5 separate regions of the Homo sapiens genome follow, and all the other regions are linked to region 2. Evidence: fine-mapped expression QTL. A gene starts in region 2. Each other region holds a variant in brackets. All regions are shown on one strand. Distances are between the middles of the regions.

Region 1 (6,140 bases), 330 kb after region 2:
TGTAGATGTAGAACATTCCCATCACCACAGAAAGGTCTATGGACGGTGTTGTTGATGGCCAGGGAAGGACACAAGGCGATGTGCTGGACTTGCCCCTGCCACTGTGGTTCCCAAAAGAGCAAAGTCAAAGGAGCTTTCTTTCTTCTGTTGTGCTCCAGGCAGAAACAGGGACTCCCAGAAACCCTCCCCACACTTGGGCCTTTAACAGCGTTATTTTACACATGCACTCCATTGAACTCCACTGTTATTCTATCTCACCCACCTAAATCCAGAGCAAATGTCTCACCATTCGGAAAAATTACATGAGAGAAAACCCCAGACGCGTGCATGGGGCTCCCTGTGAAATTGAGTCTTAGTACATTGAGTTTAATCCAAATGTATTTCGAAAACAGTGGTTTCAATTGTTGTAAACTACAGAACACATGGAGAATCCCTGGAGAAACAGATGTTAGATCTTCTGATAGCAGTAAAACATCCAAAAAAAAAATCTTGTAAATATGAACAAACTTGACTAATAGAGTATTTGGCAGTTAAGGAGATAGGAATGCATGGTGAATGTCACCTGACTTTCTAAAATAGTGGCATGAGTGTCATTAAAAAAGAAATACTCTTTTAAATGTCTGTTATTTAGTTTTAAAATGAAAAATATTGAATAGTTAAAATTTATTAAGTGTAAAATTGGTTTTTAGAGTGCTTTGGAATGGTAGTTACCAGAAAGCAAAACTTGAGAAGTCATTGATAGCAGCTGCTCAGTAAAAAAAAAAAAAAAAATGATAATAATAAAGAAAAAATCAAGAGGCTAATTTTTAGGACCAGGTTCATGGTGGAGCCCATGGGTTCATATAAAAGGCTGTTTTTGGTCCGGGGCTCATATCCTGGGGAGCTCTATAGTCACAGGCAGACCCAAGTGTGATCCCCAAGGACCTCTGTTCTGTAAGTAGTTCAAGCCAGACTCTGAGAAATTGGAGGCCCACACACTTGGTCTAGCTGGTGCCCCTTCAAGCACTCTCTCTTACTCTTATTATTATTTTTTGTTTGTTATTGTGTTTTGTTTTGTTTTTGTGTACGTATATGAAAATTTGTTGCTAGAATGTAAAGAAGAAAATGAGAGTATGGGATGAGGTAGTAGGGATGACAAGTTCAGAAGGCTCAATTTTCTTTTCAGGGTAGGGAAGGTACATGTGGTTCAGTTATCTAATTAGTTTGATTTTTTTTTCTTTTTTTTTTTCTTTTTTACAAATGTAGGGAACTCAGGAGAAGTGGGGTTAAAAGCAAGAACTCACAGAATATAGTATTCACATGTTACTGGACTCAAGAGAAAGCATCTGTAAACAAGGGCTTAGAAATGACAACTGGACTCCTGAAATAGATGGAATCATTTTAACACAAGTTACTTTGACATCTACTTGTTTCTCTTACACTGAGCCACACTTAGTCAGTACACATCACATAAGAGAAGAAGAGAGGCCAGCTCATGGGCAAGAGCTTGAAGGTCCTTATGGCCCCTCCTTCCTTTGCTCACCTGCTACGTACAATTGGTTCAGACTCTGCCATCATCCTGAACACGTTCCACTGTTAGCTTCCGTCCATGGCTATGTTTGATCTCCAAGCCCTGAGTCTCTGGAGAACAAGGCCATGTGTAATGCTGTGCCTCCTCAGCAATCAACACGTCTGACTTTTGTAGTAGATTCCATTAGAACAGATGAATGAATGAAGCGACATTGGAGGTACAGATATGGTTTGGCTGTGTCCCCACCCAAATCTCATCTTGAATTGTAGTTCCCATAATCCCCATATATTGTGCAAGGGACCCAGTGGTAAGTAATTGAATCATGGGGGTGGTTACCCCTATCTTTCTGTTCTCCTGATAGTTAGTGAGTTCTCACAAGATCTGATGGTTTTATAAGTGGATTTTCCACCTTTTGCTCGGCACTTCTCCTTGCTGCCACCATGTGAAGAAGGATGTGTTTGCTTCCACTTCTGCCATGATTGCAAATTTCCTGAGGCCTCCCCAGCCCTTTGGAACTGGGTGTCAGTTAAATCTCTTTCCTTTATAAATTAACCAGTCCCAGGTATGTCTGTATTAGCAGTGTGAGAATGGACTAATACACTTCATTTCTCCCAGGCCAAGAAGCCTGGGTAAGAGAGCCATGGTTGCTCAGTCAGCTTGGAGGATTGTCTTACGATGCTGTGCAGGTTTTTACCTTCAGTCCTGCAAGCTCCTTTTTCTCACAATCCTACACAAAACTGTAACCAAGTTGAAGATGTGAACAAGTGATGACTGTGTGGTCATCCAATGCTAAGGGCCCAAGACTGCAGTGTATATTTCAAGGTGTGTCTTCAACCCTGCCTGGGGTATTTAAAAACAATACCAGTTCTCCGTGACTCTGTCAACCAACAAATTTTATAAACATATATTTGTTGCTCATCTGCTGTGTGCCTAGAGTGTGTTCTCTCCAGGTGTCTCATCCTGCTAGAGGTTAAGTTTCCCCAAATATAAAGAGCCACGATTTCCAAGGAGAAGCTGGCTGGCTATTTTTTTTACGGGAGCACAAAAGAAATGGCCTATCAATTTATTATGCATCATCTTTCACATCTTAAGAAATAGAGCAATAATTACCAAATTTCTCTATTTAAAAAAACAAGTCAGTACTTTATACAGTAAATATGAAACTGTACCATGATCTACACATGTGTGAGTTTTCTGTAAATACAGAAATTGGATATTTGTCACTGCAACAATTCACTGCAATTGAAAAAAGATAAATAATGGATGACAATGCCACTTGTTTGTTAAAATTCTACAGAAAGGAAACATATACCCGTTATTCCTTTCATGAATTTGGCCACCGAAGGTTCATACATAATTGTGCTTCACATTTACTTCTAATTAGCTGTGAACCTGATCCAGGCCATGCAAAGCCCAGAGCAAAGGTATTTTTCCAGTTCTTTCTCTCTTGCCTTGGGCAGAAGAGGCTGGAGTCCAGGGAGCAAAAGTCCCTTGAATGGGTGCTGGGCCCATAAGTGCTTGGTGCATGCTGGGCGATGCTTGATAAACTGTTCATTGCTCATCTCTTGCCAGGACAGGTGCAATTATGGGCCTCTGCTACTTGGCACCCTTCACTCACCAGCTTTCAGCCTGTTCATCTGGGCAAAGTATCGATGTTTTCCTCAAGGGTGGGACTGGTATAGGGACCCTGCCAAGATTCCTATCCAAGGGATCCAAGATCTACTGAGCATACTCTAGAAGCAGCTTGAAGATAGTTCCCATTTAAGCTCATAACTTACTACATTGGCCTAGGGAGCATGCTGGGGAGAGGACCAGAGAGTGAGGGAGGTGACAGCCACAGGAGCCACCTGACCAGCAGGGGACAGGATGTGGTGGATGCACATTCAGCTCCTTATCTTTCTGTGG[G/C]ACCATCTGAGGCGCATTCTTCATAGCGTCTGCCAGAGGAACACCCGTGCTGTTGGGCCCCAGTTGCCCACTGCAGTAACTTCCTCACTAACAAGACCTTATTGGCTTTTCTTCCTTCTCTGTCTCACTTCTCCCCACCCTCTCTGTGCTTCCTGTGGTCACCCCCTACATAAACTCCTTGCCCTCAAAGCCTTATCTTGCGCTCTGTTTTAGGGGAACCCCAAACCAAGTCACTTGTATCTTGACCCAGGCAGGCATATTACTGAGGGTATCATGTTGCCCCTTCTGCCCACACAGCTCCACCAGGAAAAGTGTTTCTGTCCTGGCTGTGTCCTTAGGAGGGTAAGCCCTGCCTTTCTGGTCCTGTTGGCCCTGTCTTTCTGGTCCAGTTGCCCCCTGGTCATGTTGCCCCTTCTGCCCACACAGTTCCACCAGGAAAAGTGTTCCTGTCCTGGGTGTGTCCCCAGGAGGGAAAGCCCTGCCTTTGTGGTCCAGTCCTCTGTCCTGTCCTCAGGCTACCTCATAGCAGGGCCTGGCTCCTGGGAGGTGGCCAAGCCCTGCCTGCAGATGCCTAGCAGGCCCACTTATGAAAACTGGTCCCAGGAGTGATGGTGTTAGGATCCCGCCCAGTGCTCATGATGGGCAGAACCCCAGGGCACAGAAAGATCTGAAGTTCATTAATCAGGGCAAGCAGCAAGGCCTCTGGAGACATTTCTGCTGACTGATGATTAAAACAAAAAAGCAGAGTGAGGAAGACTACCCCAGTTCGTGAAACCCACCCACTCCCAGAATGCTTCTCACACTTTTTGCAGTACGCCCAGTTAAAGGGGCATTTCTGGACATTCTTGCTGACAAGCACATTACTTGAGAGCCAGAAATCCTAACCAGGAATCCACTGCCTATCTCTGTGTCTATCCTTTGTCTACCCTTCCCACCGGCCATCACACACTTTTCCTTCCTTCCTCTCTGTCTCTCTCCCCACATCTTTTCTTTTCTTCCTTCCTCCCTCCCTCCTGCTATCCTTCTTCCCTCTATTCTGCTCTACTCCTTCCCTCCTCTCTCTCCTTTCTTCCTTCCTCTCTCCATTCTTCCTTCCTCTCTCCATTCTTCTCTTCCTCCCTCTCTTTTCTATATCTCCTTTTTCCCTTCTTTTCTCCCTCTCCCTTTTTCCCCTTTTCCCTTTCTTTTTATCTTCCTCCCTCCCTCCCTTTTCCCATCCCTTCTTGTCTTCCTCTCTTCCTCCTTCCCTCCAATCTTTTCTTCTTTTCCCCCCATTTCTCTCTCCCTCCTTTCCTCCCTCCCTTCTTCTCTCCCTCCCTCCTTTTTTTCTTCCTTCCTTCTTTTCTCCTTCCCTCTCCTTCCTTTCCTTTCTCCCTCACGCCTGCCTTCCCTCATTCCTCCCTTCTGCTCTTCCTTTCTCCCGTCTCCCCTCCTTCTCTCCCTCCCTTCCTCCTTCCCTCTCACCTCTTTTTTCTCTTCTTTCTTCTCTTCCTCCCTTCTTCCCTCCCCCGACCCTTCCTCCCTTCTTTTCTCCCTCTCTAGTCTCCCTATCCCTCTCTTACCTTCCTTTCTGACTCCGTTTATTCTTCCCTTTCCTCCTCTCTCCTCTCTCCCTCCAGAGCATTCTCCTGCCCTCAGGTTCTCCTTCTCCATCTCCTCTTGCTCTACCAGGATCTTTCACTGCCTTGTGCTCTGGGACTTCTGGGAGCTCTGAAGCTGCCTACCTCTATCATGGAATGAACCTTATCTTAACACGGGTAAAGATGGAAAGAAGCCTCTCTGTGGAGTGTGCCATGTCTTTCTGTAACTCCAAGTGGTTTTTCTCAGGGAAAGGGACAGAGGGGGCCAAAGCATGGCTGGACACCTGAGGACAGGTAGGACCCAGTAGGGACTTGTTGAGGGCTGTTTCCAAGGAAAGAGGTCAGGTCCCCCTCTTGGGAAGGCAGCACCAGTTAGGAAAAGCTGCCTACTTCTTACCCAGACTCTCCCTCCTCTTTCTCCTGTTTCTCTTCCTCCCTGCCTTTCTCAACAAGGTCAAGGCCACACCAGTAGCAAATCCTGCCCAGATTTAATGTGTGGGCGAGTGCAAGCCTGGTGGGAAGGTACAGAGAGAAGGCTACCTTCCCTTCAAATCCACTGAACATCTTAAACCACTTCAGGGCTTTGAGGAAACCCAGGTTGTATTTTGCCAAGCACGTTTCCTGTTAATTTTCATACCCAAGTGTATTCTAAAGGAAATGAAATCCACATGTTTCTGATCATTTATACTTAAATCATCAAAATATTGCCTTTTAGAGGCTTTGTGTGTCAGGAAACACTTTGAACCTTTTTCACAGCAGTGTTCACTGCCTCATGGAAAGGCAAACAGGAAGTAGTGATCTGCAGAGGGCATTCCAATGACCCCAGGATGGGTCCGGGGCACCCGGGGTTGGACCCTCCTCAGTGGGCCTGGGCGGGGGCCTTGGGGCTGGGGCAGGAAAGTTGAACACTCTCAAACATCTGGACTCCATCCCTGGTCAGAGTCATGGACTTGCTTGGGGACATTGGGCACAACCATTTAACCTCCTGGGGCCTCAGTTTCCTCCAAAGTCAATGGGACACTTCAGAGAACTAATTTGATTAAAGCACTAGCTAGGAAGGAAAACAAGATTACAAGAAACATAAGAAGCATATCTACCAAACACAATGTGTGGACCTTACTCCCTCCCTGAAACAAAGTATAGCT
Region 2 (6,140 bases):
GGTTGGACGGACAGATGTTAGGGCGGATCGCACAGCGCTCGGCGCCTGAGCGGGGGAGGGCCAGGCAGCGACCCAGCGGCGGCGGCCGGCTACGCGGAGACCCGAGTTCAGGCCGCGGCCCGCAGTGGGAGGGGGCCGAAGGAACAGAGGTTTGCAAGAACAGCGAGGGGATGGAAAGGAGGAGAAAAGCGCGACCAGGGAGAACTACACGCTTCCGTGTGCGGCGCCCCGCGCTGTGCACACGCCGCACCGGGCGCGCCTAAGTGGGAGCTTCGAAGGTGAGCTGGGAGCCGGCGGGAGCTGACCCCGTGCGGCGCAACCCGCCTCCAGGCGACAGGAGCTCAGCGCGGCCACCAGAATGGTGAGGCCGCCGGCGGTGTCGGCCAACTCACCGTTTCCTCGCTTGCAAGAAGCGTTTCACGCTCCACGGCCGCGTCTCCCCGGCCTGGAGGAGTAGCGGTTCTGGCCTCTGCGGCCGCGGGCACCCAACGCGCACGGCGCCTCAGCCCCCGAGTCCGCCAGCCCGAGAGCCCCGCCGCAGCCCGCCTCGGACTCCCTGCCCCGCCTGGGGTCCGTACCCCACAACTCCGAGCGCTCCTGCGCGCGGAAAGGCGCTGGAGGCGGCTTTATAGCCGGGGAGGCCAGCGGCGGCGCATCTGCATCCTGGGAGACGTCTGGACCCAGCCCAAGCCCGCAGGCTGGGCGAGCGGAGACTTTTGATCTTACCGTGTGGGTGAGATCACTGTCTCCCGGTCTAAAAGAAAAGAAAGCATGCTGTGAACTTTTGAAACAAACTTGCAAAAACAGTCGTAGAGAAAAAATAAAAAGGACACAGGGCAGAAAAAGAGGGAGAAAGAGACTAAAAAAAGAAAAAGATAAGGGGAGGGGGAAGGAAGGAAGGAGAGAAGGAGGAAGAAGTCTGGGGTTTGCTGCTCCAGGAGCGCTCAGGCAGCCGGTGCTGGAGCGCGGGGCGCCCGCCCTCGCCGGGACTGTCGGCCTCGGGGCCTGCGAGAGCGCCAGAGCCCCAGCCGGCGCGCCCGGGCGCAGGGCCGCCTCGGGGATAGTGGGCCCGGAGGCCGCCCCCGCGCTCCAGCAGCCGCCGCCCGGCAGCGCCCGGAGCCGGCCCCGGCGCGGCCGCCCCATTCCCGGCCTGAGAGCTGGCCCAGGGAGACGCAATCGAGCCCGCAGCGCATCGATGCGCCGCCGCCCGCGCCGCTCGGGCTCCGGCTCCCGCTCAGCCGCCGCCGCCCGGGGGTCGCCCGCATGAGCTCCGGCCCACCCGCGCCCTCACCGCCGCCCGTAAGTGAGCCCGCGTCGCCCCGCCGCCCACGCCGCCCAGCCAGCTCCTTCTTGCCGCGGCCAGTCGGCCGGGCCGGCCCGGAGCCTCAGCGACCCCGATCACCAATCAATAATCAATCCCTCTAGTCCAGCAGCCCCGGCAGGCCGGGCGCGGGACACGGCGCGGCGGCCCCCTAGGCTCTCGGGGGGAGCCCCTGGCGGGGGATGGGCAGGGGAGCCCGGTTTCCTTCTCCCGCCCCCGTCCCGCCCTAGGATCGGCCCGCGCCGTGGATGGGGGGCGCGGCCCGGCTCCCGGGGGCGAGGGGCGGGGTGGAGGGACCCTGATCATCCCAAAGTCAGGAGAGGAAACTTGAAGGAACCCCCTCCCACACCGACCCCCGGGACGGGCCCAGGAAAGTTTGTCCGGGGAAAAAAAATTGGGGGAAGTGGCTACGGCGGGTCCTGGGGGAGGAGCTGGGTGGCGCGGGGTCTGAGGGCTGCCCCCACCCGCCCCGGCCCGCGCCCGCCTCCTCCCTGGAGGGGGCCTGCCCGTGGGCTCTGGCTTCCCCGGGGGACGCCAGCCCCGGCCCGGGGACCACGCTGGGGGCTCCGGAGTCGGCGGGTGGAGAGGAGTGCGAGCCGGGTGGGGCAGCTGGGGGGTGGCTGGGGACGAACGCTGGGTGGGAATAGGGGTGGGGGGTAACGAGCGCCCCGGGACGGGCTCGGCGGGGCTGGCGCCGCGCCCCCGCGTGTGCGCACGGGGCGGAGGCGGAGGGGCGGCACCCCTTTCGCTGGCGGGGCGGGGGTCCCACGCGGGCCTGGGGCCGGGGGCGGGGGCGCGGCGCCCCCGCGGGCGGGCGATTGACACGATCATCTCCTTTTCCTTTAAGCTTGCCTGTTGCCGACGCCGCCGCTCCAGCCGCGCCACGGGCAGAAGACTGGACCGCCGAGCCCCGGGCCGCGGCGGCGGCTGCGCGTCCCCCCGGATGCCGTGACCCCCGGCCTAGGGGCGGGGGCCGGGGCAGTACCGGTCCGGGCCGCTCCCGCGCTCCTCCTCCCACCGCTCTGCCCGCCCTCTCCCCGCCCCCCAGCCCCGAACCCCGCGCACCTCGTCTGGGGACGGGGCGGGGGGGGGCAGGGCCGCCGCTCCTCCCCGCCCCCTCCTCCTCTGGCCTCTGGAGCGATTTGTCAAACTTCCCATTCCGCCGGCAGCGCGGTCCTCCTCCTCCTCCTCCACCTCCTCCTCCTCTGCCTCCTCCTCCCCCCCGTGCTCCTCCCTCCCCGAGCCTCCCTCGCCCGCCCTCCTTCTTCCCTCCGCACGTTCGGGGTTCGCGGCGGAGCGCGGCGCGGGGGGGACGCGGAGAGCCTGGGCGCAGCAGCATCCTGCGGGCGGCCGCTCTCCGGGGGGGAGGCTGAGAGCAGGCCCGCCTCGCCCCCCCGCGGGCCCGCCGCCCCCTCCCTCCCTGTCCTCAGCCCGGCAGCGGCGGCGGCGGCGGCAGTGGCAGTCGCCGGAGAAGCATCATGCCGAGGAGGAAGCAGCAGGCGCCCCGGCGCGCAGCAGGTACGAGCCGCTTCCCCTTCCTTCTGCTCTCCTCCTCCTCTTCCTCCGCTCGCCCCGCGCCTCCAGCGGGCGCGACCCCGCTCCTCGCCCCGCTCTTCTGCCCGCACTGAGTAACTCCGGGCGCCGCTCTCCTGTTTGGGTGCGTGCGCCCGCCTCGGGTACCGGGCGCCCCCCGGACGCCCCGCCGCGCTCTGCCCTCTTCCCTCTCGCACCCATTTGGGGAGCCGCTCGCGGAGCGCGCTGAGCCGCGCCAGGTCCCTACCTCCTCAGCTCTCCGGCTGCAGAGGGAATGGGAAGCAACCCCGGCCTGGCTCTTTCTGTGGGTGGCGGGCGGGGTCACCTGAGTTCCCCGGGACATCTTCCGCGTCCTCCGAGCGGCCGACCGCCGGGGGACTGCCTGGTGTCCGCCGAGCCAGGGAGCGCGAACGAGTGAGCGAGCCGGTCCCCTCGGCCACCTTAGTACTAACACGATTGATTCCTCATTTCTTGGGCCCAAACTGGGCACAGCGGTGGAACCCGGAGCGCACAGGGTCTGGGTATTGTCAGATGACTGTCAAGTCCATGTTAGATGCTGGCGTTTCCTTCTCCCCTGTTTGTGTTTCCTCGCCCCCACCCCCTCCTTGTACTGCTGCTCCCACCCTCATCTCCGCATAGCACTTAGTTCTGGGACGTGTCTGAGTACTTTTTTGTTCCTCCTTTTTTTTTTTTTTTCTTCTTCTTTAACCGGGAGTGTCAACTCCTGTTAAGACTGAGCCGATTTTTTTCTTTTCTTTTCTGGAAAACGCATCATTGAAAACAAAACAAAAACCACACACATAACATTATTTTGCAATAATGTCGGTTGGGGGCATGTTGCCTGGAAGAAGGGTTTCTGGCCCGTTGCCATCCTTGATTTGATGACTGATTGATCGCCCGTCATGCTGCTGCCTTTGATCTATTCATTCCCAATAAACATCAATAAATCACTTGCAATAGTGAGGCCAAGCTCTGTGACGTCAGGAGGGCCCTGTCAGTGCAACTTTGGGATTTGGGGCGGATTGCCGAGAGGACCACATATGGACGTGATGTATTTTGATATGAGTAACACTCAGATGTGCAGAGGTTCAGATGCTCCCTGAAGGGGAGGGTTAAGTGGGGCTTCCTTTCTTTTCTTTTCTCTTCCTTTCTTTTACTTCTCTTTTGATGTTAAGAGGGAAGGGCAGAGAGTAGGGTCAGGGCATTGGCTGGTGCCCATCTTGGAGGAAGGCGTTGTAGCCATGGTGCCCTGAGTGCCCATAATTTCCATCATGCCAGCCGGCACTGCCAGGGGACCTCACACGTTGGCTGCACTCTGCACTCCAGACCCCTTACACGGGGTCACAGAGAAGGAATGATAATTCTCTCTTCTCCCAGAAATGTACTTGCCTGCCAGTGTCTTCAGAAAATCTCAGAAGAAAACAGGGTTGGTTTGGGGCTTAGGATGCAGGTTTTGCTCTCTGTCCTCGGTGTTGCCCAAATTTAGAAAGTTTGAAAATTCCAGGAGTGATTGTAGGGAGCTTGCCGCCTCCCTAGTTAACCTCCTGGAGCTTGCTTCTTGCCCGTCCCACCTTCTACTTTAAATTCCAGGCTCAAGCAATGAGCTTATCTACCCAAAATAAACTCTGAAACTTTGGAGGAATCCTTCACAAAGTTGAGTAGTAGGAATGTCTTGGGCTTCTTCCAGTCTTTGAAATTTTTTTTTTCTTTCCTTTTTGGATACACATTTTAAGGTATGTGTGTGCCTCCATCCAATGAACCATATGTGATTACATCTTTACATTTGGTTCAGAACTCTCTCTCTAGTTCATCTCTTCGGTTGCACCCTGCCAATCTGAGACTCGTATTTGATAGCTTCCTCCAGAAAAATATCAGAGGAGGAGGGAACCTGCTGTTGGCTTTATTTATTTATTTATTTATTTATTTTTAGAGCAACCTGTTCACTAACCTTTTCACACTTTTTTTTTTTTTTTAAAGAAAGCCAGCCAGGAAATCTCAGGTCAGTTAAGAAAAATTCATTATATAAAAAACTTGACTGCAGGACTAATAGGAGATGGAAGAATGGTTTTGCTCTATCAAAATGACCCGTCAAAACGACTTTGTTTCATATTTGATTTAATTGTCTCTCTCCTGACAGGCACATTCATCAATAGCTTAATGGTCAATCAGAAGCTGGCAGCATGAGTGCTTTATTTCTTTCCCATACTCGGGTTTTGGATTTACTTTATCAGAATGCCTCTGCCTAATGGACATGTGGAGGAGGGGGTGGAGGCGGACTGAAGAGCTACTTATTTAAGAAGAGTGGAGAGAAAAAAAAAAAACTCCACATTTAGGCTGGTGATAAGTATGCACAGAGGTTTTTTTTTTGGGGGTGGTTTGTTTGTTTGGATGGACCAGAAACTTCCCATTTTTTTCTCCTCTTTTTTAGTTTTCCCAGCTGCAAGTTATAAGGTTCATGCCAGCTTTTGTGGCATACTGGGAGTGATGACAAATTGATTGCTTTGTACTGATAGAGAGAGAGAGTGGGGAAAAGAAAGATGTCTGCTGATTGGTAACTGGAAATCCAGTCCCCAGCAACCTTGAGAATACTCGAGAATTTTTTTCCCCTCCAAACTGAAAGGTCCGCTCAGCCATAAAAAAAGAAAAGTTGTTTTGCCAGCTTCATTAGTGTTCACCTAATTAGCTGTAAACCTGATGGATTCCTGACAGCTTTAATGATTGGAGATGACAAGCTCGACGCAGTGTCATCCAGCAGAATTAGGTTTGCAGCTAGTTTGATGTAATCAAGTTGATATTACACAGTCCTGGCTGCCTTTAGTTGTGCATTAACTCAATTTTCTGCTGCAGGTGACAAATGGGCTTTGGTACCTGGATAATCATGTCATAGGAATTAGGGCCCTTTTAATGGTCTAGGGTAGAATAACAACCACAAAAGGCCAAGAGCTGGGTAGGGCGAGCAGACGTGGCACACAGGTACACACGGTCTTCATATCTAGGCCAATGTATCATTGCTTTCCCGAAGGCCGAAGCAGGCTCCAAGAATCCCTGAAAATACATATTTCTGTACTTTAGGATTTTTTGATGTTTTGATAGAAACTATGTATGGCTTAGGGTCTTTTCTCAAAGAGAAAGAGAGGTTTCTTTACCTGCCAAAGAGAAACCTGGGCGGGAGTTTGCTTCCTTGAGACCTGTAATTTCCAGGGGGTGTGCATTTGTGCTGGACAGATGTTGCTGCTTTTAGAAGCTCAGAGGAGTGGGGTTAGGGAAGGACAGTGTCCTTCAGGCA
Region 3 (6,140 bases), 250 kb after region 2:
GGTGATCACTTTAAGTCAGAGAGGTAGGTACCATTCATAATTCGATTTACATTGAAGAAATGGAAGTTTGGAGAAGTCGGGTAACTTGTTCAAGTATCTTGCAGGTAGTGCGTGGCAGAGACAAGAGTCAATCCTGTGGCCACAGACCCGCTTTCTAGAGGGGCCTGGAAGAACTGTGGCTTTCCTTCCAGAGCTGAGCCAAGTTTAGGGTGTCAGTAAATATTTGAATGAAAGCATCATTGAAAGATGTCCTCATGGCTAAAGCAATAGGAAAGCTCTGCGGAGTCGATAAGTATCCAGCTCAGGCATGAATTTTTGTGCATATCTCTATTAGCTGCTTCCAGGGATCAAATTTCGGAGACCAGAGACTAGCGAGGCACCCTCCCACACACTGTTCCTCCGTGTCACACACTCACCCTCATACAGAGGTCATGGAGAATTTCCAATGCTCCCAAGCAACCCTTAAGAATCCTGCCCAACTCTTGGTGTCAGGATAGTTACTACAGAAAGTGACCCCACTCATTTCCTGCCATTTCTGTTCTAGATAAGACACACCCAGATGTCTTATGCAGGACTGAGCAACTTCTCTGCAAAGTCCTCAATAAAATGCACTTTGATTCTCCTCCATAAAGGCATGGGTGCATGTCCAGCCACACCCTCAGAGCATTCTGGATAGAGCACGACACACACACGCGCATGCACACACACACACGCACGCACACACACACACCATCTTACACTGAAACTCAAACTGGCTTACAGTTAGTTCCCTATCAAGAATTAATGCAATATCATGCACACACCATTACTGAAAAATTCTACGCTGTTTTTTGCCAAGTGTTCCTATATAACAGTTTTATCACAAGTCTGACAGCCTCCATAAAAATTCCAGGCATTCTATATCAACAGCCCTCTTTGTACTAAGTTATTAAACATTAAATTTTTATTCGTCATTTGTATTCTGTTATGCAAAATAAGCTCCTTGATAAGATGTGTCTTCTTAATTGGGCCCTTGATGCTTCTTGGATCGGAGTTGTCAGATTAGCTGGAAGAAGAGGCACTGCGTTGAGCCAGCTAGCTACCAGGAGACCAATAGCTTTGTAACAACGATATTAAGTTAGAGAGGCCAAATGGAGGGCAGCGCCAGGCTCAGGTGAGGGTTTGCATCTGTGCATGTCTTCTGCTCAGGCACTTTTCTCCTGGCATCAGCAGGGCTGATGGAAATAGATTTGTTTGTTGTTTACAGCATGCAGCTGTGGGCAATGCTGCATGGGAGTTGTATAAGATTGAAGCAAATTTGTACTGAGACTAAAATACGGAGCTTTGCTCCCGTCAGCAGTCTCTGGAATCTTATTGTCGAAAACTTTATCTAGTTGTAACCTTCCCTAGGGTGATTTCCATTTGCAGCTGCCCTGTTCTGTCTCTCATCTCCTGTCCCCCACCGCCACCGTGGCGTTAGTACTTAGCGGGAGCCAGCCAGCCCCGGCCGGAGCTCCGGCTCCTTCCTGACAGGGCCACACACAGAAGGACCTGGCGACAGGGCGGCCATTTTCTCTCCCAGCCCTGCCCCGGTCACACAGCCTGTGCTGCCAGTCCCTGGCTACTGCCGTCTACGCTCAGCTGGACAGGATCCGGGGACTAGGGACACTGCTTTCCAGTCTGGCGTGGATGGCCAGAGAGCCACCCGATCTTCAAGCAGGGGAATTGCACCTGACAATAAATTATTTGCTGTATGTTGGAGCACATGCGTGCACCTTTCTAGAGACAGTTCTAATTTTACCCGGAGAGGCCTGTTCCGCTACTGCAAGTGTCTCTTTGTCCTCAGATGCTATTGGGAGGAAAAGAAAAACAAAAAAAAAAAAAAAAAAAAAAGCTTTCTGGGGATCCTGGGGTAAGGTCAATTATTCAGTGGGGACACACGCCTCCATTGTTAGGGCCAGCTGGCCTGACAGACAAGTCGTGTGCATTTTCCCTGATAGGACTCCTTCGAGTCTTTAGAAAGTAGTGTGTGTGTATGTGTGTGTGTGATATTGGTGTTAGTGTGTATCTGTGTGTACTTGTGTTTTATGTGCCTGTGTCTATATGTGTTTCTGTGTGTGGCTGTGTGTGTGTGCGTGTCTCTGTGTATGTTTGTGTGCATGTGTATATGTGTGTTTGTGTATCTGTGTGTATGTGTCCGTATGTGTGTCTATGTGTGTGTCTGTGTGTCTCTGTGCCTTTGTGTATGCATGTGTGTTTTTATGTGAGTATGTGTATGTGTGTATCTTTGTATTGTGTGTGTCTATGTGTGTATGTTTACATGTCTATGTGTGGATAGCGTCTATGTGTATATTTGTGGTGTCTGTATGTGTATAGATGTGTCTATATGTGTAAGTGTGTGTCTATGAATGTATGTGTGTCTATGTGTGTATGTGTGTATATGTGTGTCTCAGTGTGTATGTCTGTTTCTATGTGTGTATATGTGTCTATATGTGTGTTTGTCTATGTGTATATGTGTCTATGTGTATATTTGTGTGTGTCTATATGTGTAGATGTGTCTATGTATGTGTCTGTGTGTGCACTGTGTCTTTGTGCACGTATGCATGTGTGTTTGTATACGTGTACATGCATATGTGTCTATATGTGTCTGTATGTCTATGTTTATGTCTACATGTGTATGTGTGTGTCTATATGTTCATGTGTATGCATGCATATATGTGTGTGCATGTGTGTATGTGTGAACATGTGTCTATAGGTGTATATATGTCTATGTTTGCGCCTATGTGTGTATGTATGTGTGCATGTGTGTGCATATATGTATGTGTGCCTGTGTATATATGTGTGCATGTGTGGTGGGGGTTCTGAGGCACTGGAATATGATTTTCCAATCTTCTGTGGTTATTGAGCCATTTTATTCAGGATGCCTTTTAAGAATGTGGTTCGTCCTCCCTGACCAACTTCATATCCTTAGCTTAACCAGGAGAGAAACCCTCTGGGCTGAATTTGTCTTCATGTGCTGAGAAAAGCCTGCTGTCCAGGCCCCATTGGAGGAGGGCAGGCCTCAGCCATATCTGCTTCCCGGAGGAGCAGGAGGCCCATTGCTCACTCCCCCATGTAGCCAAAGCCTCCAAGAGGAAGGAGGAAGAGGTCCCACCCAGTTTAGCTAGAGGCCCCCCTGCAGGGGACACCTCTGGACCACTTGGGCTTCCACCCAGAGCAGGCTCCCACTCCTGAGTCTGCCCATGCTGACCTGGGCTAGACCGGGTCTTCAGTGGGATTCTGAACCTGTCCACGGAGATCTCCTGAGTGTGTAGCTCCACTTGGAGTAACTGGTCTGAGTTTTCTGCTTTGCTAGCTCTGAGTTTTGGGGTCCTAATGGGCTTCTCTTGTGGACACCT[A/G]GAAGATCTGCACTGAGGGAATGGAGTGGATGTCTTTGCACCTGTCAGCAGGGTCTGAGGTCTTAGAGAGAGACCAAGTGAGTAGAAAAGTAGTGAAGTGTCTAGAAAAATGTGCATGCATAGCCTTCAACTGTTTGTGCAATACCTCATCTCAATATCCAATCAGGTACCAATGCGTTATCCCCAAAGCCATTGTGGTGAGAACAGGACTACTTGCTATGCCAATGCGTGCTGTTACACATACTATGATTATTTGTGGTTTCAAGAGACAGAAGTTCAACTAAAACTTGTTTCAAGTAATACATAAATAAAAATGTATCATCTCCCAGGGTACAATCCAGGGATGGAAGCTGGCTTCAGAAATGGCTGAAGTCAGGTGCTGAATGACACCAGGAGAACTCCACCTTTCCCATCTCTGCTCTGCGTTCCTCCACACTGGCACATCCATAGCTCATCTTTCTCCAGGCAGTGCAAGATGACCACCAGCAGTGCCAAGCTTCTATTTTGCCTGCCTAGAAATCTCTGTGGAAATAGCAGACCTGGCTCATGAAGACACCAGCTAAAATCTCAAGGCTGATTCTCAGTGGCCCAATTTGGGTCATAGTTCATCCTGAACCAGTCGCTCTGATGGAACGATGAAGAGCTCTTGAAGGTGGCCGCATGTGGCTTCTGTGTCTGCCCTTAGAACCTAGCTATAGGGTCAACTCTGCCGTGGATGGAGAACTGGGGAGAGGGAGGGAAGACTGGCCTATCAACAACATGGAAAGGAAGAAAGAGATAAAGGTTGTAAGAGCCATTTCTACAGACTCCGAGTCTTCAGACTTTGGGGAAATGGCCCAGCCCTGCTGGCTCTCGGGCCTTTGTTGGGAGGGCCTGTTTGCCCTCTTTAGCCAGGTCTCCCATTGTGTGCAGCCCCTCTGTGATCCAGGCCCTCCCAACCTCTTGCTGCCCCCAAGATGTGCCATGTACTTCTAGACCTACAGGACTTTGTTCATGAGCAACCATCTGCATGTAAAACCTGTCAATCCATGACCCTCACTCTCATCAGTTTATGCCTGTAAGAAAATCCCACCCAACCTTGTAGCCCAGCTCCAAGAGCAGGCTCTCCAAATACCCTTTTCCTCCTTCTACCCCCCATCAGTCACCTGACCCTCTGCTTCTCCCTGTTGAGGGTGATAACAAAATCCTTCACCAAGTGCCACCGTCTGTATATAGCAAGCTCCTAAAATATCTAATTCATATTAAGCACACAACATAGTGAATGGCACAGACCAGAAGCTCAGTTGAGTAGACAGGTGAGCCCATAACCCCCTTGTGCTGAGGACTCTAAGCTTGTAGCCCAAGTGAAAGAGACAGAAGAAAATGAACAAGTAGAAGATTAAACTTCCAATTCCAAAGGTAGGACTGAGTTTCCTCTACCTTTATCCTCTTTGATAACACAACAAGGTCTAGGTGGCTATAACGTCTACAAAATTAAGCCCCAGATTGCCACTGAGGATGAGGAGATTTGATGGCCTGAGTTAGCCCCCAAAGAGTCCTGGATTCTCTGGGGAATGCCCAGGCCTTCATTTCTCAGGTCCCCCCACACACAGGCTATGCGAATGATAAAAGACAGACATTATCTACATTCTAAATACATATAGGTTAATGAAAAGATCACTATTTTCTGGTAATCCATAATTCTCCCAAGATAGAGGACTCCTTCCTGTATATTCAAGAGCCAATAGCCACTTGGACTGGAGTGGCCTTGGTTTCAGCTCCTGGCTGTGTTTTGACATTTCAAATTTGTAGAGGTCATGTGTGCAGCGGGAATGGCTTTCTAGAACACTGATGATAATATTCCTGGCAGGCTCAGGCGCTGGAAATTCCGGTTTCAAGATATCTCATTATCTGCAGGTGCCATAATGGGAAGCTGAATGCAGAGCTGTCAATCATAGAGGAACATTTGGAAACGCAGCAGCCACATAAAAGCGTTCCCTGACTTACCCCCTCTGCTCGACGAAGGGAGGAAGGAAGCTCAAAGAAATCGTCTTGCAAGCAGTTCAGCGGCATCAAGAGGAACACAGCGGACTGAGTCATCTGATGTATATGGTGCCCACTAACAGGCCCCATAAAGCGCCTGCCTGTCTCCAAAACTGAGCCTCAGGAAGGCATCCCTGCCTGCAGAGGTGCTGTGGGTTCTCCTGCCTCTTGACCTTGGGGTTTCACCAATAAGGCCATGCCATGAAGGCATAGTCTATTCACTTTCAGACTCTATATACAATTTTGTGTTCCTTGCAAACTAACTGAGAGAGACTGACAGGTGAGACAGGGGCTGGGGATGTGTAGGATGGACATTTGAGAATACAAGTTAGTTTTGTCACATTCAGATAGTCCAGGGCTTTGGGGGGACTGGGAGACGGTGGAACCCTGATGTTTTTTCTGTCCTTGCTGTTTGGCCCCACATTAGGGGGCTAGTCTTGAGACAATCTCACAAATTCCCAAAACAAAACTCAGTTTGGTGTGCTGCAATTTATTTGAAAATAAGATCTCAGGCCTTAAATACTAGCATTCATAAATGGAGCTGGTAAGTGGAGGGCTCAGCACCGTCACTAAGCAAGGTTGCAGGGACTGCCTTCTGTGTGGCTGGCCAGTGCTGGTGGTTCCTGGGCACCTTAAGAACAAGACTTAGAATTAAAGGATTTCAGAGCTGGAGATTTGCAAGGATCCATGGACAAGAATGAATGAACTTGTTTCACTTTCACTCAGTGTGAAAATAACACA
Region 4 (6,140 bases), 20 kb after region 2:
CCCAGAAGAAAGTGCCCGGGGGAGGTGACATCTTCTGCAGTCAGGGAGGCAGGCTTGGCTGGGGCCCAGCCGCTCTGCCCTTAGAAGCAGCCACCCCTCCTTACGAAGGTGCAGCGTGCTCTGGTGTGGAAACATAAAATGGACGTTCTGTGAAAATCAATTGACTGTCCCGGCTGGACCAGACAGCTCTGACACCACAGTAGGTGGCAGGTGGTGAACATAAGGTACCCAGAAACCTTGGCCGCAGTGACACAGTGAATGCAGCCGCTGGCCTCCTTCCTTGCAACACTATTTGTAGTTTCTTCTCTCTGTGCGTCCATGGCATTTCCAGAAAATGCATCTTGAGTTGACTTCCCTTCGTTATGACACAGCACTGCAAGCAGGGTCGAGCTGCAGTTGGGAAGTTTCAGGGCACATTTCGGCCACATCTGCTGGTACCAGTAGGACCGTGATTGTTTTGGTGGTTGTATGAGTGCAGATTAATTAAACAACAGTAACAAAACAGAACAAAACAAAAAAACAGCAATTCGCAGCAGATCTGAAATATCAGTGACAAAGACAAAAAAAATGATAAATAAGCTATTCCAGGCTATGAAAGAAAATTAATGCCCCTTTAACTCATCACTGCGCCAAAAGTAGATAATAAAGTGCTTACTATGAGAGCGGTTTTACAGACATGTTTCCTGAGGCTCTGGTACAGGTGAGCTCAGGAAGGCCTGGTGTCGCTCTGTCCACATTCCCCGCGTGCCCTCTGAATCTCTGATGCTTTGGTTCAGCCCGGGGGTCTCTCTTAGGCCAGGGTTACATGCGCCGTTTCCCTCCTTCAGTCCTTAGAGGGAAGGAGGGGGTATCCCTTTCGGTGAGTCATAACTCTGCCGTTGGGTTGGGCAGCTCTCATGTAGAAGGGAGATTTTAGGAAGCCCGTCTTTGCTAGAATTTGCCTGGCAGGCCCTGCGTTTCCCATTGTCCTTCTGCCACCATGGTGACTGGGGACATGCCCGTGCCTGTGGGGGACAAGCATGCATGTCAGTTTTTGGGCATGTCAATGCTGATTCCTGTGCCCTGGGGTACGGCCCACCTTCTCTCGGTAGAGCTGTGACCCTGCCAACAGGAAGTGCTGGGAAAACAAGCTCCTGACACCTCCGTCTGGGGTCTGGGGTCGCCTTCTCAGCGTGGGCTGCTTCATGACCCATAGGTGTTCTGGACTTTCCTCCCCCCGCCCAAGGATTAAACAGCACTTGGCTCCTTGTTAAAAGCACATTGATGTTTTGAGCCCAGAGGGAGGTGTGGATCACACAGCAGGTCAACAGCCTCCATTTTGCACCCCGCCATTCCCTGTGGCTGGTTAAGGTGGGAGTGGGTAGGGAGGAGAAAACAGAACTAGAGAGTGACATTGGGGCGATGCTGACCGAGGGTGTGACCCAGGCCAGGCCAGGCTGCTGTGGCCACTGACCTGCTCCTCCCTGCACTTCACATGGGAGCTCGGGCATTGGGAGCCGTCAGGCCAGTCCTCAAGGTACGGCCAAGCAGCCCGGAGGCCACCTCCCGAGGCCTGTGCTAGCAGCTCCTGGTCCATGCCTGCCGGTCAGCTCACTGCTCCACCCCTGCTAGGCGTTAGATGTTTCCAGAAGGCCTGAGGGCCAGGCAGGTGAGGGGCTTCAAGTTCACTCAGGGCAGCTGTTGAGAGTTTAGCGAGTTTTATTTTTGCCCCCAAATTTAAAAGTATCACGGAAGGCAGAGCTATTACAGAGAGAAACCAACCTTTTGGTTATCACACAGCAGCTTTTATGAATTAAAAAAAAAAAAAGGATCTTGACCCTCTTTGAAAGGAAATAAAGTAGGAACCCAGTGTTAAGGAAAACAAAAAAGCTGATATTACAGTTTTTATGATTACTCATATCCTAGGCTGGAGCTTGAGGAAACCAGTTATAATGGAATTTCATTTTTTTCTCTTCCTAGTTGTGTGTCTGCGCTCTTTTTTCCATTAGAATGAGGAGTGGTTCATACTTGGTGTGGAAAAAAAACACACAACAATTTTGGCATGTGATCCTTGCTCTTAGTTGACCCAACGCTGATGGGACTGAAGATAGAATTATGCGGCCTTGTAATTAATTATCGAGCTATAAGGGGAACTGTGGAGTGAAGAGAGAAAGGGATGGAGTTACACAGGGCGGTGTTCCTGCCTCTCTCTCCACAAACACCCCCACTCCCAAGTGCTGTACCCAGGTTTAGCTTTGACACCATAAATAATGCATCTTCCGATATTCAGAAGTGAAAAATCTAAAGCCATCTAGTGGTTCATTTTTATTGGTAGCCACTGTATTAGCACCATTTAAAAACACTATTTTATTGCTGTGAGTCTGCAAGTTGCCAGTAGCAGTTCACCAATTTCACCGGTGTGAGGTGAGGGGTAAGATGATGACCAAAAGCAGAGATGCCTCCACTCTGCCTAAATTAAATGTTTGTGCAAGTAAACTTGAGCGTGCCCATTGCCAGGGCTGACCTTATACCACTAAGTTCTTGCAGTGGCCTGGATGATTGTAATGGAGGTAACGTGATATAAATGTAAACTTTAGCCCTGCTTACACAGAATGCACAAGGCAGCGTGACACCTTCATTTCAGTAGTAAGAAATTACCATTGTCTCTTATTTCTTGCTCGGAGCTTGGGTGACCAAGCCAAGAAGTAATTACACAATTAGGGTTGACAAAGCAGTTCCTGTAACATTTCTTTCTCTTAAGTTTGGGTAGCTTATTTCAACTTCACATTTTCCATATCTTTGTCATTAATAACAAATATCCGTTTTCAGTGCAATACATGTGCCGCATGAAGATTGGGAGCCTAGTGTAATTTAATGATGAAATGTGAGCATTTCATTTTCTGTAAATGTGGCTCTTTGAAGTTTAAGGTAGACATCCAGGAGCTCACACGGCCCCTGTACAGGAAGTTGACTACCAACTCTTCCGCAAGTGAGATTGGTGAACAGTGATTGGGAGCCACTCCC[G/T]CTTAGGTGACAAAGATGTTTGAAAGGATATGCAGATATGTGACATGGCTTATCTGGAAGGCTGCCTCTTCAAAGTCATCTCCCATTACTATGGCTCCAGATAATTCTTTAATCTTAAATTGTGTTATCTGCAGTATGTATACGGTATTGTAATTAATTGTCACCAACTTAAAATATAATCTGTTTGGAGTTTATATACCATCTAGGCCTGACCCTTACCTAAAGAAGAAAACACCTCACAGTTTCTCTCTTCTTATTTGTTATTGGATATGAAAGGAGAGAGACACTCTCTACTAAAGAAAAATAGACCTGTTAAGATTTAACCCGCCATTCCTTGAATAAGATGTTCTCAGAACTTCTGTTTTGGTACCAGCTAATGCTGCAAACAAGCTTTGAAACATGGATGGCTCAGCTGGGAGGTGAATGGCCTGCAGGAAGGTTGGGCTCCATCAGCAGGGGCCAGTCCACTGAAGCAAGTCAGTCCTGCTGCCATTTGTCAGCCTGGGCTGGCCTTCCAGAGCCCATCCCTGGTGTGGGAGAGGTGCCAACGTGGCCCGCAGTCCCCGCTGTTTTATAGCTGATGCTATATGCACACACCCAAGGCTTTTCAAGGCTCACACTCAGAGAAGTGCCCACTGGTCTTCCCCTCAGGTGGACAGAGTGAGTGAGTTCCCTGCTCCATGAGCCTAGCACTTCGCTTTTCAGCAAAGGTGCCTTGGTTTTGGGTGGATCTTGTATAAATGAATTCTAGCTGGGGGCCTGGGCAAAAGTTATATTTCTTCTGACAGAGTTTGTAGCAACGTTTTTCTTAATTATTCTTGATGTTTTGCCCATTATACCATTAGCTTCTTCAGAGGACAGAGATAAATAGCTGGTATCTGCAAGAACAAAGTGTGAACTGAATGCATTTAATTATTGATATCTCAGTAACTAAAGGCTCTAGAATGATGTTGTCAAATGCCTTAGTGATCTGACAGCCGATGTATTGGTTTGCAGATGCAACTAGAGACAATGTCCATGTAAACTCTAGAGAAAGAGAACACTAAACAAATAAGAGAATATCGTAGTTCATTTTCTCATTTCTTTATTTTTTTTCCCAGTGCAATTCGTTTCATTTTGTGTATTGGATTTTGAGGTTTAGGGGCTGTGCAGGGTGTTTTATTTCAATATGTGGTAAGATACAAATTGCCTTCATACTATCATATTATTGCCTTTAAGTATACTGCCTGGCTCAGTTACATATACACTGTATATTTATATGCGTGTATACGTGTATTGTGTGTACATATATGTATTCTTACATATGTATGTATATGTATGGTACATATGTGTATCACCTAGTGGAAATCAGTGTTCTCACAGTCTTATTCTTATCAGAGGGATTTTTAAAACTAGCCTTATATGCATGTTTTCAAGAATAAAGCAGAATGCTAACAAAGTGCATTTTCCTTCCCTCTCATTAGATATCAGATCCCTTTCATATGTAGAAAAGTAAGGATTTCAGGTATTTATTCTGACATGTTGACATAACTCCACATATTCAGTTACCTCAATTTTTAAAATCTATTTTACTATCTCTCACATGTAGAATATGATTCCCAGGGTTTAAAACACACAAGGAAATTGATCGCTGTTCAAAAATGTGCAGCGGTAGCCCAGAGGCTCAAAGTCTAGAACCTCGAGCTACAGGTCTCAGGGAAGAAGGGAATTGGTCGAACACATCCAGTAATGCCGTGGAATATTCTTTTTTCCTTTGAAGGTTTGGCTTACAGTACTGTTCTCATGATCATGTTTAATTCTATGTTTTTTCTAAGGGCTTTTTACTCCTCTGCTGGTTTTTTTTTTAATGAAACAGAAAGCTGCTGCCTTTCAGTAGCCTGGCTGAGTGCTGTAAGGAAGGAGAGTCTACATTCTGGACTGCTCACTTCTCTCCAGGATGCCTTCTCTGGCGTTCCTCACATGGAGCTGGACTTCTCCCCTGTATTTGCATGCTTCTCTGGCCTGTGCACACTGGCACACTGGGGCACACATAGGGTTTCCATCAGAGCCGAAGGCTGCGTGAGACTTGGGGAGGATATTTATTTGAAGTTGCACAAATGTTTACAGTAAGGGAGACTGAGACATGGGCACTCGCAGTGCAGAGCTACCCTGAGCAGAGGAACTGCCTTTCCCTCCTGTCTTCCATGTGCTCCGTTCTCCCTAACAGCAACAAACATGCTGTCTTTTGCAGCTGCTTACTTGGAAATTAAATAATGAGCCTCCTGAAGATGGTTGCTTCACACTCCGAGGTTTCAGCCCCATGAGAAAGTGACTTACAGCGATAGATGAGGGGAGGTCAGCACCACCCTCACTGTGCAGGCTCCGAGCATCTGGGTGTGGGTGTGTACGCGTGCTCATGCACACACAGACACACGCAGGCACGTGTGCACATGCACACACACGCGCCAGGCTTCTAAGCATGCAGGGCTGCTCTACAGAAGCTACCTAGAGCCCTGAAAGATTTGACAGTAGCTTTCTCTCATGAAAGTGGATGCATTGTCATTCTTTAAATTAAACAAAATGATGTCCATAATGCAATATTCAAGAGAATCAAAGGGTATGCAGTTAAAAGAGAGTCTTCTTCTAACCCCAGCTCCTCAGTTCTTCTCCCTAGGGGCAAGCACCGATACCAGTTTGTAGTATAGTCTTCTAGATATTTATGTTGGTGCAAAAGTAATTGCAGTTTTGCCATTAAATTAAAAGTATATTTTAAATATTTTAAATGAGAAATCCACACTTTACACTCCATGTTGTACCTGTTTTTGTCTAAGAATATACTTTGGATATCTGCAGTTTACTTTGACATGCATCCAAAAGTTAAGATACATGGAATGATGGGTATATATGTGATAAAGCAAATAAAGCGGAATGTTAAAGTTTTAAACTAGGTGATGGGTGTACAGGCAAAATTCTTTAAACTTTGCTGTGTATATTACATTGTACATAATAAAATGGTGGCAAATCTATGTATCTCAGTCATCATCTTATATCATGTTAGGTTTCAGCTGCTATATCCTACCATATTTTGTTGCACAGAGCTGCCTTATACTTTTTAAGGGCCACGTTTGACTCTAGTGAATGAGTTACCCTCTGCATGG
Region 5 (6,140 bases), 32 kb after region 2:
GTAGATAAAGCAAGTCAAAAAGGACTACGTCCAGGATCCGTCTTTTCTACAAAGCACAGAAGCAAACACGAGCCTAGTATTGCTTGGGGGTCACGCATTCATGTCCAGGGTCATATTTACCCACCGCCTGCCTGAGCGGTGGAGAAGCCCCGTGGTCATGTTGTCATTCTCAAGTTGGGTCCTTGTTCACAGGCATTTGTTTGGTTATTATACTTAAGAACCTACATGTATATTTCATCTGTTTCTGTATAGATCAGATGTAACCCGAGAAAATGTTTCAGGGTGTGAGCTCCCTAATACGTCAGGTCATCTGCAGCTCTAAGCTCTGGTTTTTGAGCCAGGCTGTAGCGGTTACGTCCTAGTTTAGGATGATTTGGCAAGAAACTCTCCATCACTTCTATCAACTGCGTGTGTGTTGGAAAGAATTAGGAAGGAAGGGCCGATTGCTACTTTCTCAGGGGGGCTGCATCTTAAGAGTCCATATATGTCATTCAGCTAATGAAGCCTGCCTTCCTGCCCCTAGTAGCAGCCTTTTTTTTTCAAAGCAGCTTAAGTAGAAAGAAAACTTGTTTCAGTGATGTTTGTGCTTTTGAGGGCGACAAAAGGTGTTACACTGTTGTTTTCTTTGTGATTACCGTTGTCATGGTGGTTATTTGTCCCTCTTCAGTGTTCTAGTAGAAACTTTCTGCCTGGTGATGCTTTGAGGGGCTATGAGCTCATGGTGGGTGAGCCCGGGTTTCCTCAGGGCCTGCCTCTCAGTCCTGCAGAGACATCAGTCTCCCTCAGTGGTGGGCTGGGGCTCAGGGGAGAAGCCCAGGTTGTGGCTGGGTTTTGCTGTGCAGACCTGGATATGCTCACCTTAGGGTTTCAGCCATTTTCACTTCTTCAGTGTGGCTTAATTGTTTGTGTCTCACCAAGTGATCTTCATATATATGAGTAGCTTTTTTTAAAAAAAATTACTGATGAAACCTTTACAATGTTTATTGGAAACAATGATTTATGTGCAAAATTCTTAAAGAAGGAAAACCTACTTTTCTCTATTTTGTAATAGAAGGCTTTTGTGTTGACAACGTTCTTCTTTTTATCTGCAGCTGAGCCAGCCGTCTTGGCAGGTGCTATTCATAGCCTGCTTGTTTCTGCAGTGTTGCTAAGTTGTGAGGTGGGGATCCACACTTTCCTTAAGTCCTGTTGTTTTTCTCTATAGGGGAATGAACTAGGTGGCTTTTAACAGGAGACAGTTTTGACGCCTGCTTTTTATATTCAGATGTACTCACCCAGGAAAAGCAACTTCTCAGGTCCCTGGTCTCCGGCTCAGAGGATCCTTGATCAGACAGAGCTGAGATTAATGAGCTGCTTTTAGCCATGGCACCAGGGTGGTAGGATTGTCTGGGCCATGGGAGGAGCCCATGAGGAGGCACCAGAGCTGCTATAAAGCCCTGCTCTTGGGACTAGGTGTTTGCCACAGTATTGGTGACCGGATCGTTTGTTCCTGATAATGGAAATCTCATCATTTAGAGATGGCAAGTTAAGATACTTTTATTGAATGAACTTCCTGCGAAGTTTCTGAGCCATAGTTGGGCTTATGACATAATTGCTATACATGTTGATACCATCTTTTATCATAATTGTTTTTCATTGTTTTTAATAAAAGGATAAAAATAATAGGAGACATTTTAGAAAGTGGTTTTTTTTGTTCTTTTATTCATGATACTAAAAATTACCCAAAATAAGATATTTTACAAAAAAAGGATTTTGTTCCAGAAGTGACTAATTTAAATCAGTTTATACAATGAACTTGCTAATGATCCTCAGTCTAGAGAAGTGTAATGCTTTTATACTGTTATCATTTTTTATGAATAGAATTATACAAAAAAGTTCCTATTGTGTTGTACAGTGAGTTTCACACAACCATCCTTTATCAACAGATGGCAACCAGCACATGAAAAATAATTAAAAAATAAAATGAAAAGAAACCGAGAATGAATTAAAGTGCTTCTTTGCGTTCCGATCTGCATTTTTGGTTTAGAATTTTTATGGTGAATTGCCATATTATCTGTTATATCAGTTTACAATGAGGCTCCTATCAGACATAAAACAGATTTATAATACCATTAAAATACAATATCAAAGAATGAATAAGCAATTCAATAAAATTACAATAACACAAAGATAAAATGAAAGCCTTTTCAATAACAGTTTTATGCAAGAACATTTTGCAGATAAATATGTGTTTATAGATCTTTTAAATGTATATTTATTATACTGTTCCTAATAGAGCCACAGGGGTTAATTTTTCCTGTGTGTTGTCTTTTATAAGTGGTTTAAAAGCTAGCTGCAAAACTCTTCAATAGATTGTTTTGAATCTTTGAATTGATTTTGGTAAAGGGAGCTTTTACAGTCCTGCAGCCGAATGTTCACACACAAATGAGTCAATACGGCTGGGCCCTTTTACCAGGGGTGGGAGGTGCCTGGAGGAGCTCCGTGGTCACCTGGGACCCAGGCGTGAAAGAGATGCAGAGGGAAAAGTTTATAAATGAAGTTTGATTCTGTATGCTTTCCACCCCGGATGTCCGGGTCAGATTTCCGGAAGGAAAGTTAATGAAAGCCAAGCATGATGACAAGCCGCCCCTTCTTGGGAGCAGCGGGGCAGGCGTTTGGGACAGCTGCAGCCAGTCTGGGGATGCGCCCTGCTCTCCAGACCCTGCTGTTCTCCTCACACCTGGCTTGGTGCACCTTAATTACACAGCCTGTTTCCTTCCTTTGTCTTGAGTCTGAGCAGGGAGTTCCTTAGGCCTTCTGTGATCCTTGCTGTGCTTGGCCAGTAGGGTCAGTGTGGCAGTAAATTTGGGGTGAGGACATAAGGACCAGGAGACATCACAGGGAGCTTCTGAATCCCTGGCAGGTCCTGGGTTGTATGGTGCAGCCAGGGTCCCCCAGCTCTTTGCATCTTGCCCCATCAAGAGCCTGCACTGTTCAGCATCCCCATCGTCCCGATGTGGCTGCAGTGGGTCACACCCTGGCCCTGGCATGGCTCGGCTGGAACAGCTGCCCAGAGATGGCTGGGGCATTAAACTACAGCATATCAGCGTTTTAATGCTTCCCTCCTAGGCAGCTGTGGCTCTGGCTGGGGCTGGGGCTGGGGGCATGCCCAGAGAGCTGGAGGGGAGGGAGGCTGGTAAAAAGAAAAACCCGTTGGATTTTGTTGACGGATGAAAAAAATCCTGGAGAAGAGAATTTTGTCCCTGGAAAAAAGTCTCCTGCGACTAAATTTCAACTCCCGTGGTCCTTTCTTTGTTGTAATTCCTCTGCAAATCATTGGCATCATCTTCTTCAAATTGATAGAAGGTGCCAGGCCCTTATAGATTGCTTAATATACTGTAGGTAATATGGGTTGCAGTAGAAAATAAAAGCAAGCAGAGAATATTTGGCCGGAGCATATGTGACTCAAATAATTGAGAAATAAAACGGGAAAACGACTAGAAAGACTGTTCAGTGACACAGCGTACAGTGAGCTGAGGTGGGGCGGGGGTTGGCTTCTGTCTCTCTCTGCCTGTTTCTCCTTCTCTCTCTCTCTCCCCATTCTTTCCCTCTCTGCTTTTCCCACTTTTCCATGAGGTGGAAAGCAGACACTTGAACATTTCCTTCCCTAACAGCCCCTCCTCTCCCCCATGAAAATTTAGAATTTTGCTTTTTTACTTTCTTATTTCCTCTCTGTTCCAGAAAATTTTAGTACACGACACAGCGGCTGCCGCAAATAGCACTATTTCCCCAGCCCAGGCT[G/T]TTTGATTGCAAGAGGCTTGATTGCATCATTAGTCCTGAAGTGCTGTGCTCACTGAAACACGCCAGCATCTTGGACATTAAAGTGGCATCCTGTTGTGTATGAGGAGAGGCCTCGTACACACCACTTCATCTTGCAAACCTGCCTTTTCCCCAGAGTCTCCGAGCAGCATTAGGTAAACAATTACAGGAGATGACTTTAGAGGTGCCGTCTTCCCCTTTAATTCATGCATACAAGCATTCCAGTGTTACTGCTGCAGAAAACACAATGGAGTTCTCACAAACAGGCTTTGGGAGATTTAGGCAGATTTCCCCCTGGAAAATGGGAAAGGCATTTTAAGTAGCAGGGAACTCCTGCCTCCCTCCCTGAAAACAAAGCTGCTGGTGTTGGTGCTGCTTTCATCACTGAAGACTTTGAGATCCTCCTGCATTTTGGACTCTCTTAGGGGCGTCAGACTTCTTCTATCTGTTTTAATATTTATTTCCTTCTCCTTACACACCCACCCGAAGTGCAAGTCTAGTTTTATATAGCAGTAATTATTACACCTTGCCACTCTCTCCCAAGTTGCTACTTGATTAGTGCTGAATGGGTAAAAGTGACTAAACCCTTCTCTGTGGGAAAAAAAAATGGTCGATGTCTCTTTAAAGTCTTTGTCCGGCTGGTTATTTTTTATATGAGCTCAGCTCACATCACTTTTTATTAGCTTAATAAATCACCTTTCTTGTCAATCAAGCAGCAGAGAATAATTGGATATGGTTGAAGCCTTGCGTGATGGATTATAAATCATTCAAGATTAAATTAAAAGATAATGCACAAACTTAATGGTTTGTGTTTTGCAGTCTAAATTGCCTCGGAGCACTGCTGTTTTCAGCTTTATTGCCAGCCGTTTTTCTTTTCACAAAACCTTTCTGATTTTAGCCCCTTTTTATTTCTGTTTATCATAATTCCAATTGTATTTCTCATATTTACCTTTTAGTGCTTTGCCCATCCAAGCTGGGTGGCGAGTGAGGGAAGTCTAGGGCGCACACACCCAGCTCCCTGGCAGAGGGCAGGAGGGGCCCCACTGCTGCGGCCTGGCCTGGCTCTGATATGATGTGTCCTGCCACCTGGCAGTATCCAGCACCCCGCCCCCAGGAGTAGAGCTTCCTGAGTACCCCCAGCCAAGCTCCACCCTTTGGAGGAGAAATGGACTTATCAGTCCCAAGTGATGAACAGACCGGGGACGCTTTGGGACAGGGCGGGGCTGGGGGAATCTCCTCTATAAGAGGTCAATACTGTCAGTAAATTGGATGGCTGATGTGAGCCTCGAAGGAGAAGGGGAAAGAGAAAAGAAAAAGAAACAAAAAATAAATATCATGAAAGGAAAGTTGGATTGGTCATATTCCAAATAATGCGCCTTTCAGCATCTGTTCCAGGTAGCTCATACATTTCTGCTGGCCGCTCGGGGAGAGCATAGGTGATAGACATCTCTTGGCAGAGTTGCTTTCTTCCCTTGATCTGTGCCCAGGACAGAAGTGTCCAGTGCAGCAACCCCTGGTGGCAGGATTCCCTGCTTGGGATTACATCCCATGCTCTCTATCTGTCCAGCACGCATCTGTAGAGTTTAGAAGAAACACACAGAGGGATATAGGACCCGTCGTCCTTTCTCATAGAGGTAAGCACCTCCAGTGTCTCAGGAGCCTGGCTTCTCCCAGGGGCCATGAGCTGAGCCTTCCCCTGGAGCTGTGCCCCCAAATTCCTTCCCCTTCTTTTTATTTCACTGCCTGCTCTTCCAGACAGCCCCGGAGGTGGACACTCAAGGGGTCTGAGAATGACGGTGATTACAGAGCAAGGTTCATCCAAACGGTTAATTTCTCCCATTCTGGCTACAAAGTTAATTAATGTAATCTAACGCATCTTGAGGCAAAATTATGCACTCACATATGAATAAAACCCTGATCTATTGCAAAATACGAATCTGGCACTCGGAACAATTCACAATCACTCAAATTACAAGTTATGCACAAGAATGTAGTATCACAAGGGGATGTGAAATCCTGTCATTAGAAATGATTCACAATGCATCAGAAACCCGGCCCTGAGAAGGTTGGGCAGAAGGAGGTGAGCAGCCAGATAGCTGGGATGGACTTGTGCAGAAGCAGGGGTGCAGGCAGAGCCCCACCGTGCAGGTGAGACACGGTTCCGGCCGCTGCCCATGTGGCTTCTCAGGATTGCAGTGATGGCCGACCATGCCTCCCTGCCGCCCGCTCTCTCTCCCATGGCTCTGGAAACACCCTTGCCTGCATGTAGCAGTGCTTGGCAAAGGAGGCTGGCATGGCTGGGGCCTGGCCTCAGCATCTCTCGTGCAGACTGTAGGGAAAGA

The links. PIP is the estimated chance that this variant, and not a neighbour inherited with it, causes the effect.
Region 1: its variant is fine-mapped to the expression of TSHZ3 in whole blood (TOPMed, PIP above 0.99).
Region 3: its variant is fine-mapped to the expression of TSHZ3 in whole blood (INTERVAL, PIP 0.97).
Region 4: its variant is fine-mapped to the expression of TSHZ3 in whole blood (TOPMed, PIP above 0.99).
Region 5: its variant is fine-mapped to the expression of TSHZ3 in whole blood (TOPMed, PIP above 0.99).

What each region holds. Positions count from the first base shown.
Region 1 is chr19:31,013,299-31,019,438 of GRCh38, reverse strand. No RefSeq gene overlaps it. Among named protein-coding and RNA genes, the nearest start is that of LINC01834, 110 kb to the right of the region's middle. The variant G/C (reference allele first, on the strand shown) is at 3,416.
Region 2 is chr19:31,345,879-31,352,018 of GRCh38, reverse strand. TSHZ3 (teashirt zinc finger homeobox 3) reads left to right here and starts at 2,583. Exons shown (of 2, transcript NM_020856.4): 1 at 2,583-2,839. The coding sequence starts at 2,800. TSHZ3-AS1 (TSHZ3 antisense RNA 1) reads right to left here. Exons shown (of 3, transcript XR_002958388.2): 1 at 3,102-6,140.
Region 3 is chr19:31,091,643-31,097,782 of GRCh38, reverse strand. No RefSeq gene overlaps it. Among named protein-coding and RNA genes, the nearest start is that of LINC01791, 73 kb to the left of the region's middle. RefSeq lists enhancers at 1,007-1,506, 619-1,631. The variant A/G (reference allele first, on the strand shown) is at 3,378.
Region 4 is chr19:31,325,788-31,331,927 of GRCh38, reverse strand. All of the region lies in intron 1 of TSHZ3 (teashirt zinc finger homeobox 3), which reads left to right. TSHZ3-AS1 (TSHZ3 antisense RNA 1) reads right to left here. Exons shown (of 3, transcript XR_002958388.2): 1 at 1-6,140. Among named protein-coding and RNA genes, the nearest start is that of TSHZ3-AS1, 7.0 kb to the right of the region's middle. The variant G/T (reference allele first, on the strand shown) is at 3,004.
Region 5 is chr19:31,314,204-31,320,343 of GRCh38, reverse strand. The region is part of intron 1 of TSHZ3 (teashirt zinc finger homeobox 3); the gene reads left to right. Among named protein-coding and RNA genes, the nearest start is that of TSHZ3-AS1, 4.6 kb to the left of the region's middle. RefSeq lists an enhancer at 973-1,474. The variant G/T (reference allele first, on the strand shown) is at 3,781.